2 linked regions of the Homo sapiens genome follow. The protein of the gene in region 1 purifies or fractionates together with the protein of each later gene. This does not show direct contact. Each region holds a gene or a part of one and is shown in the gene's direction. Other genes may lie near its edges. The genes, in order: DIAPH3 and LRRTM3.

Region 1 (4,523 bases):
GAGTAATAATCCCAACTTCTTCAACTACAGTATTCCTGTAGGAGCATTGACAAAACTCTAAGGGCTTTACATATGCTATGTTATTTAGGCCTGAAAATGCCCCTCTTTCATAGGTATTAGTATAATTACCCCCCTTTTGTAGATGAAGCAGCAAAGAAAGTTAAACGTCATCTCCGGTATCAAATAGCTAGTAAATGGCAGGAATAAAATCTGTATCTGGGTCTGTCATCAAGATATAAGGAACTACTTGTAGTTCTCCTGACCTTGCTGTTCTCCTGTAAGTTTCCCTAAAGATTATGTGCTCTTTGAGGACAGAGCTGTAGAGTCTGGCACAGTAAAACAAATATTAAAAAAGAAAAGCTGTAGTGTGAAGACTTACTGAGAACTAAGGCTCATTTTTTGAACCTCTGTGCCAAACTCCTCAGAGTACCTAGAGTTGTTTCTTGTACCAAAATCAATACTGCATGTTTCCGAGTCTTGGCCTACACCACCTCCATATAATCAGAAGACAGATATCTTAAAGGAATAGTTCCAAGGAAAAGCTCATTTTTAAAGAGGGTATATTGATGTGTTGAGAAAACGGTGTTTGCCTTGTAGCTTGACCTTGGGTTTACACAACAAACTCTTTTGCATGGTTTCAGTTCAAGGCCCTTTGTTATGTGACCTTAAAGTTTCTTCACCTCTATGCTTTCTTGGCCTTGCTCCTGCCTGGAATGGAATGCCTTTTAAATGAATGCCCTGCCACTGTTTCCTGCCTAGTGAAAACCTATGCAGCTTTCCTTTTACCTTTCCAGATCCACTCCTTCAGATTTAATAACTTCCCTTTTTGTTCTCAAGGAACTTCTAAAACAACTGCTATAGACATTTACATTCCTTGGTTAATTGTGTTAGGGTTTGGAAACTACAGGAGACTGTGAGCTCCTGAAGGGCTCAGCCTAGCCTAGCTCTGTCTGATTTTGGGTGGACCCCTCTGCCACCCCAGAGCGAGCACTTAGGCAGGAAATATGTCCAGAAGGCTTCCTTTTGGAGCGTCGTGGGCCCCGTCGTTTCATCCTGCCTAGTACCCCTTCCAGCACCGTACCCAGTCCCAGAACTACTTTTTCCAGCCCCAGACGTGCAAGGAGAGGGCTAGCAGATGGTTTTATATCCCAGCGCTGCTCAAATGGTGGCGCAGGGCCTGTCTCGCCCACCTTCCAGTTCTGCTGGAACCCTATCTGCAAATCCAAAGAAATCCAGGCCGATGACTTCCTCCACGGTCCCCGGCGCTTCTCCAAATCTGACGCCACTCTGCGTCCTTAAGGTGAGCGGCCTGGACCGCCGGAAGGGTTGAGCGGCTGCATAGACAGGCCGCAAGGCCAATCATGTTTCGCAGTGCCCGGAAGGGGCGGTGCCTCAGCGTGTCATTGATCCGGCGGCGCGGGATTGGCCAGTCCCGGGCCAACACGGGTGGCGGGAGTTTTCAGATGTGTTGGCTGCGGCCCCGACTTCAGCGGTTGGGCTAGGCTGTGCTGACTGTTTGGGTGGCGGACCCCGGGAGTAAAACCTGTTGTCGATCCCTCAGCTTCCAGCTTGCGGCTTGCTGAGTGGCCACCTTCTTTCCGGTCCCCGGAGCTGCGGGGAAAGATGGAACGGCACCAGCCGCGGCTGCACCACCCGGCCCAAGGCTCAGCCGCTGGGACTCCCTACCCTTCCTCAGCCTCTCTCCGCGGCTGCCGGGAAAGCAAGATGCCGCGCAGGAAGGGCCCCCAACACCCTCCGCCGCCCAGTGGCCCCGAGGAGCCTGGGGAGAAGCGCCCCAAGTTTGTGAGTATCGCCTGGAGCTAGGGTGGGGCCGCTCCCGCCCCGCCGTAGGGCTGACTGCCGAGGGTGGGCCCACAAGAACTTGGGGACCAAGTTTTATTCTAGAGATCCAGAGGTGCCAAAGATCATAGATTGACAACGACCGGGTCTAGTTGTAGTTGGATCCTGTGACAAATGCCCAGATCTTTGTGTTGCCCCCAAATTTCTTAACGCTGATGTGAAAAGCAGTTCAAACGTGTATATGTATTGACGTCATCTAGGTGGACATTGCATTTTTTAAGTCGAAGTTCTCCCTTCCTCCCTAGTGTAAGAGGGTATAAGATATATCAAAATGAACTTTTAGGTGACAGGTTTTTTTTCTGCTTATTATTTTAATAAGAACTTTTAATTACATATAAGAACTTTTAAGGTAGATATAATTTTCCAAGTTGAAACAGCTAGTTTTAGAACTTGGCGGGTGGTGTGGTCACTGCTAAAGAATGTTTTGCTTAGCTTGGAAAGAATTCTAAATATTTGAAACTTGCTATTCTGGTTTGCTTGTGTTTAACACTTAAGGAAAGTGTCATGATTAACACCTTGTCTTTTCGTTGGTGTCAACTAGTGAAAGTATAGGCAGTGATGATTATTTTGGGGTTTGTGTGTGTAAATAAATCACATAGAGGGTTGATAGATTTGGGATGAGTCCAACAGAATTGAAATTTCACATTGACCACTCCACCATTTTCCTTAGGAATATGGAAAAACTGTGTGTGTGTGTGTGTGTGTGTGTGTGTGTGTGTGAGAGAGAGAGAGAGAGAGAGAGAGAGTACAGCATTTGCCTTATGTGGGCAAGTAAAAATTGTGAGAAATTTAAGTCATGATTCACAAATTAAGGGAATAATGGTTTGTGAACCAGTTGCTAACTATAACATTTAGTTAAAAATAATAGTTGAATAAGACTGAGAGCCCATATTCTGATACATGAGATATATCAGAATACTGAAAATGAGAAACAGCATAGATTAATTGAAAATGAGGAACAGCATAGATTAATTATGCCAAATTAAGTATCAAAATGGTCATAGGAATAGTGACATTTTGCAGAAGGATCAAGTATGGACTTGATCATTATCTTGACAAATCTGAAGAATGAATAGGACAGAGTTAACTTCCCAATGAAAGATTTTTGCCTAATGTGAGAAGAATCCACTAAGGCAATGACTTTTCTTCCTTTTATAGTCTACTCTCTGGGTTAATAATCTTATTTTATTTTGTTTTAACTTCTGTGGTCCAGAATACAGGAGGTGTTATTTTCTGTGACTCATTCCCAGCAAGGAGGTCATGAAAACAGGATCTAAATTAGTATTTATGTTAAGTTTCATTGAAGGATTTCATCATTTGGTTTCCAGTCTCTGTGCTGTTTTTCATTCTTATGTATGTCACATTGACCATCTCAGCATGCCATTTGTTAAATGGATTCTCATAAAGATGAAATGACATCTAAAAGATAACACTCTTAAGCTGTAAAGGTAAAAAACACATCTAAAACACTGTGTTTTTGGGTGGGAGTCTGGTATGAATCATGACTTCCAGTTAATTTAGAAGTAATTTGGACTCTTGGTACTTTGAAACTAATTTAGGTTCTTGCTTATATGGTAATTTCTTTAGTTATATCTTCCAGTTCATTAATTTTGTTATCAGCTATGTCTAATCTGCTACTTTTCTGAATATTTGATTTTAGCAATTATTTTTTATTTTAATAAGTTCCATTTGCTTATTTTTCAAATCTGTCTGGGCATTCTTGATAGTCCTTTGTTTCTTATTCATTTATTTCTTTAGACATTTCCTACTTGATTGTTCTTATTCTTTATTTGACAGTTCTGCTGTTTGCAACCTGGGCTGTCTACATTGACTCAGATTCATGATGGCTTGCTCTCTTTCTTGTGTGTATTTATCTTTGTAAGCTCATTGCTTTATCTTCACCTGTAGGATTCCAGAGATGCTTTTCTTTGGAGATAGTTTGAGTTTGTCTGCCAAGGAGCCTGGGCATGCTACTGATTTTGGACCACCTTCCTGTTGAACTGGAAATCTTAACATGGGCAGAAGTTCCAGGCACAGCTCTACTCTGTTCCTGTACTAAAGTTCAGTATCCCAGTCTCAAGACTGCTTCCTGAGCAGCTCTTCCCAGTTTGCCTACCTTTCACTGCTCTTGATTGCACACCAGTAACTCTTGTTTTTTGGATGGAGAGGGATCTTTGAGACCATCAAAGTTCCCAGCAATGCCTCAGAAAGTAATTGTACTTGTAGGTGTCAAGTCAGTCACTGTTCTTGCAGATGTCAAGTTAGTTCTTGGCTTTTTCTTGATTGGATGAAGTGACGTTATCCTAAATCTTTTCAGGTCACCCAGTCATTATCTGAGCCTGGGGCAGCTGTTTTTGATGGGAACAAGTAATATAGGTTGGTGATGTGATGGATAGGAGTAATTTAGGTGGCCAGTGTTTTGCACACTTCTGCAAAGCAGCAAGCGAGTAGTAGAATGGAGTGGTAGACTGGTCACTCCCTCCTATCTTAGTGTAAGAAAGCAGGAGCTCTGGTACCCGCTGAAATCTTGTTTTACTTTGAGTCCTGTTAAAGTTGGCAAATTCTTGTTTTCTACCAAATGTATAGTTGCGGGCTTCAAGTCACTTGTGAGTTGGGTAAAAGAGTTTGTAGCTTAGATATCTCTTCCCATAGATAAGTATAAA
Region 2 (3,819 bases), on another chromosome or scaffold:
TTCGCTGTTAGCCTCCTGGTGGGACCAAATCTACAGTTATAGAAGGTTTGCACCTCACTGGCAAATCAAGGAAAGAGGTGAATGATTCCAGGTGCTCGGAGCTTGAGCTGATTCTTGGAGATGACTCAGTTATGGGAACATTTTACAGACAGGCAGAGCCTTTAAACCAATGCCTGACTTAGAAAAGAAAATTGCAGGAAACTATCAAAAGATGGTGCTAGGTTAAAGCAGCACCCTGAGCAGTTTCCAGAGGTGTCTGAATTACAGTAAGGCAAGCACAGGGACAAAGTGATGAAGGGTTAAAATACTGCAAGCAGACAACTGCAAAATGTGAGGAGATGACAAAAATGTAAAGTTTTCGACTCAGCCTTGTCTCTGAAACCCATCTCTGTAAAATCAGACTAGAGGTTTCACTGCCAATTTCTTCTAGCCTGTATGTTTCATAAATAAATAAATGAAACAGCATTGAGAAGCCAGATTTCTCCACCACACCTCACATTAGTTAGGGAGTTTTCAGATAAGGTTCGCGAATGGGAAAGCAGCTTGCTACAGGCATGTGGTTGAGAGCTTACCAGAATTTCTCTTTCCAGTTTTTTCGAAGACCCTAATGTAGTTAGTAGAATCCTTAGCTCTGTCCTGTTCTGTTCAGAATTTGTCAGGCTGCCCTGTTGTGTTCCATTACATGTCCTGCACACACCAGTCCCCTAATGACAGACACTTCATTCAGATGTGTAAAGAGAACACATTCCAAGACGTGCCTTCCACCCACAGCCTCATTGAAAAGGACGACTTTGATAACACCTTAATAAATGTATAAAACGAATCTTAGAGGAAAAAAGACCAACACTATGACAGTTCTCTGTTGCTTTTCTATTGCTGACATTACAATGTCCCTGCGTTCATCTGTATTGTGAACTCATCCATCAGTACAGTTCTGTACAGACCCTGTTGGCAATCTGCAAGCTGCATGCATGTTTTTATGTCATTGGTGAAAGTTTATTGACTGCAGCACGAATATCATAGCTTCCATATTTGAGTAACTTGAACCACAGTCAATTAAGGTTTTTAGAAAGATATATTTAGTCTGTATTCTCCTTCATCCTCCAAAATGAACAGTTCTATTATAGAAGCAAATATCAGGAACTGCAACATTGAGGCTGTTTCATTTAATTTGGCTTGCCAACCCCTACATCTTTAACCATGTCCCTCTTCTCTGAAAACAGAATCACTGCAGCAACAAAGAAAAAGTGAATGGCTATTTTTACTAATTTTTTTTTATTGTTTGGGGGTTTTTCATATGCTGAGAGGAAAAATCTAGGCAAGTCACCATAAAATAAAATTTTAAGGATGCCAGATCATTAAAATCATACTTTTATAAGCAATAAAGAAAAAGAAATAGTTAAAGTGGATTTCTCAAGGTACTTTGATATTGATTAAATCTTACAATAGATGCCACTTCAGAAAAACATCTTAGTTACAATGTTTACCCATGAATAATTGTTGAATATACATGTATTCATGACAAAAAGTCACATATTTCCAATGGATTAATAATGCAGATACTTCCTCACAGCTTACTGGATGACTGAGCTTATTGTGATTTTTTTACTGAAGTTGTAACTTTACATTTTTCATAAAGCATCAGTAAATACATATTCCATCTTAAAAAGAAATTTTCTTTGGCTAGCCTCATTTTTATCTGTACTAAAGATGTTTGTATTAATGAAATGCAGTCTTAAAGTGAAGAACCCCATTTCTATTCTTTTTCACTTAACCTTCTGCCTTACTTGTGATGGATACCAAATATATTTAGGCAAGGAATACTTATATTTTTGAATTATTGCAAATTCTCAATGCCATGGTGCTACTAGTATATATAAAATATGCTTGCTGTATTGAAAAGCATTCCTAAAATTCAAAGCTACTTGGAATATAAAATATGATATAACACTAAATGAATCACCAATATTTTGAAAGCTGTCACTTTTTAATGCCTAACTTTACTAATAAACATAATAATAGATAAGAACGAAAATAAAATCCCTTAGGTGGTAAAACTCATTTTGATTTGGGACATGAAATTATGGGAAAAAAGTTCTTTCTTTCTCCTCACTCTTTGAGAATGAATCTTCTGTAATTCTCAGTATCTTCTGAGCACAGATATATAATTCTTGTAGATTTAATAACTAGTTTACCACTGTAAATTTTAAAACGCCAACTGCCAGTCTCCTGCTCAAAAGTTGTTGCCTCACCTCCATCCCATGGTACTTTCTGGACTACATATCATAAATCTATTTGTATAAGTATTTCAAGTTCATGCAGATTAGAGAAATGTGATTGATATTTATTTTTCTAGTACGTATTTACATAAAATATTGGACTTCCCTCAAAGGTGACAACAGTTAAAAAAAAAAAAAAAAAAAGCCTGACCTGTTGAACTATACAACAGAACACAGAATACTTTGCTTTACCAAAACAGAGAAGAAATGGGATTTAGTCTCTAAACTTCATGTGAGTTTTTTTCCATTTTTATTAACCCCAGTACACATAGTGCTACCACAGCATGTAGTTAAATAGTCCCAGTGCCACAGTCTTGTAAGCAATACTTATGCAAGATATATTGCATTGAAATGAGTTTGTATTTTCCAAGGACGTTGACATTACATCTTTTCAAAGAATTTAAACAATTTTTTACTTGATTTGGTGAGTGAACTACCTAAGTAGACAGGCAGTAAATTGTCTTTCTATGGAGCAGCAGTGACCTCTAGTGTCTGGTTAGACTAACCACAGCTATTCACACATTTTAGCTTTTTATCCTGAATCCTTATGTAAACGTGGTTTACAACATGTTTTTTGACTAGTAAATCAGATTTGAATTTTATTTAATTCATTTCCTTGGGAAATATAATTATAATGTAATTTTTGAATGTTATACTTTTCATTTTGACTTTTATAGTAATGCTGGAACAGAGGCCATAGAATTGGTACTGAAGGCTAGAAATAAGTGTCCAAGATGAAAAGCGAGTAATAACGCAATAAGAATAGATAAGAAATATTTTAGAGTGCTTATACTCATCGATGCTGGCTAAGCATTTTGATATTTTTATTAAAGGGGTTAATATTTTTCATCAGCAAGATACATGTAATTTAGGTAGGAAAAACAAATTTTAATATTATATCAAAAGAGTCAGCATCAGTCATTTACTGGTCAGGGATATGTCAAAGGTGTCAAAGGAGGGGGGCCTCCCCTTCCGGCTTTAGAACTCTCCAGTTTGCTGATTGTGCCAGTGACCTGTGCTTTGCCTCAGCGCTTTCTCCCTCCCTCCCCCTTTTCAGCCAGCTGAACACTGGTTCTATTAGGCTCTCTGACAATGATGTTACAGTCTAAGAGGTGATGATTCATGGATAATGAAATTATGCTCTCCTTCTGGGGAAGGATAATGCAGAGTCAGATTCATGGATTTGGCAAGAGGTTTTAGGATGCTGTAGGTGCATGAAATATCTCTTCTTCCCTTGACATTTACCAAAATGAGAACTCAAATCGTTTATTTAAAGTGTGGATTAGACTGCATCAGAAACAAGCATCAGGTCATGAAGCCTGAGATAAAGTGAGTTCCAGACATGGCAAGTAAGAATCGAGCCATGAGAAATAAAAAATTCAGAATCTGTGTTGCTTCATCTATTCCTTTTTGCTCTGGATTCTCATTAGAATCCAGATCTGTAGCTAACCCACGGAGTTTTGCTATTGTTGTATTCTCCTAGCTACCTACACTAAAAATCAGAGGCAGTTGGGGGAAACAATGAGCACAACAGAATATA

The links.
Region 2: the proteins of DIAPH3 (region 1) and LRRTM3 purify together in Homo sapiens (co-immunoprecipitation; one large-scale study listed by IntAct). This does not show direct contact.

What each region holds. Positions count from the first base shown.
Region 1 is NC_000013.11:60,160,867-60,165,389, reverse strand, and holds the start of DIAPH3 (protein diaphanous homolog 3), read left to right. Parts: upstream 1-1,461; 5' UTR 1,462-1,623; coding exon 1,624-1,803; intron 1,804-4,523. UniProt on the Homo sapiens protein: Actin nucleation and elongation factor required for the assembly of F-actin structures, such as actin cables and stress fibers. Required for cytokinesis, stress fiber formation and transcriptional activation of the serum response factor.
Region 2 is NC_000010.11:66,928,789-66,932,607, forward strand, and holds part of LRRTM3 (leucine-rich repeat transmembrane neuronal protein 3 precursor), read left to right. Parts: intron 1-3,819. UniProt on the Homo sapiens protein: Exhibits a limited synaptogenic activity in vitro, restricted to excitatory presynaptic differentiation. May play a role in the development and maintenance of the vertebrate nervous system.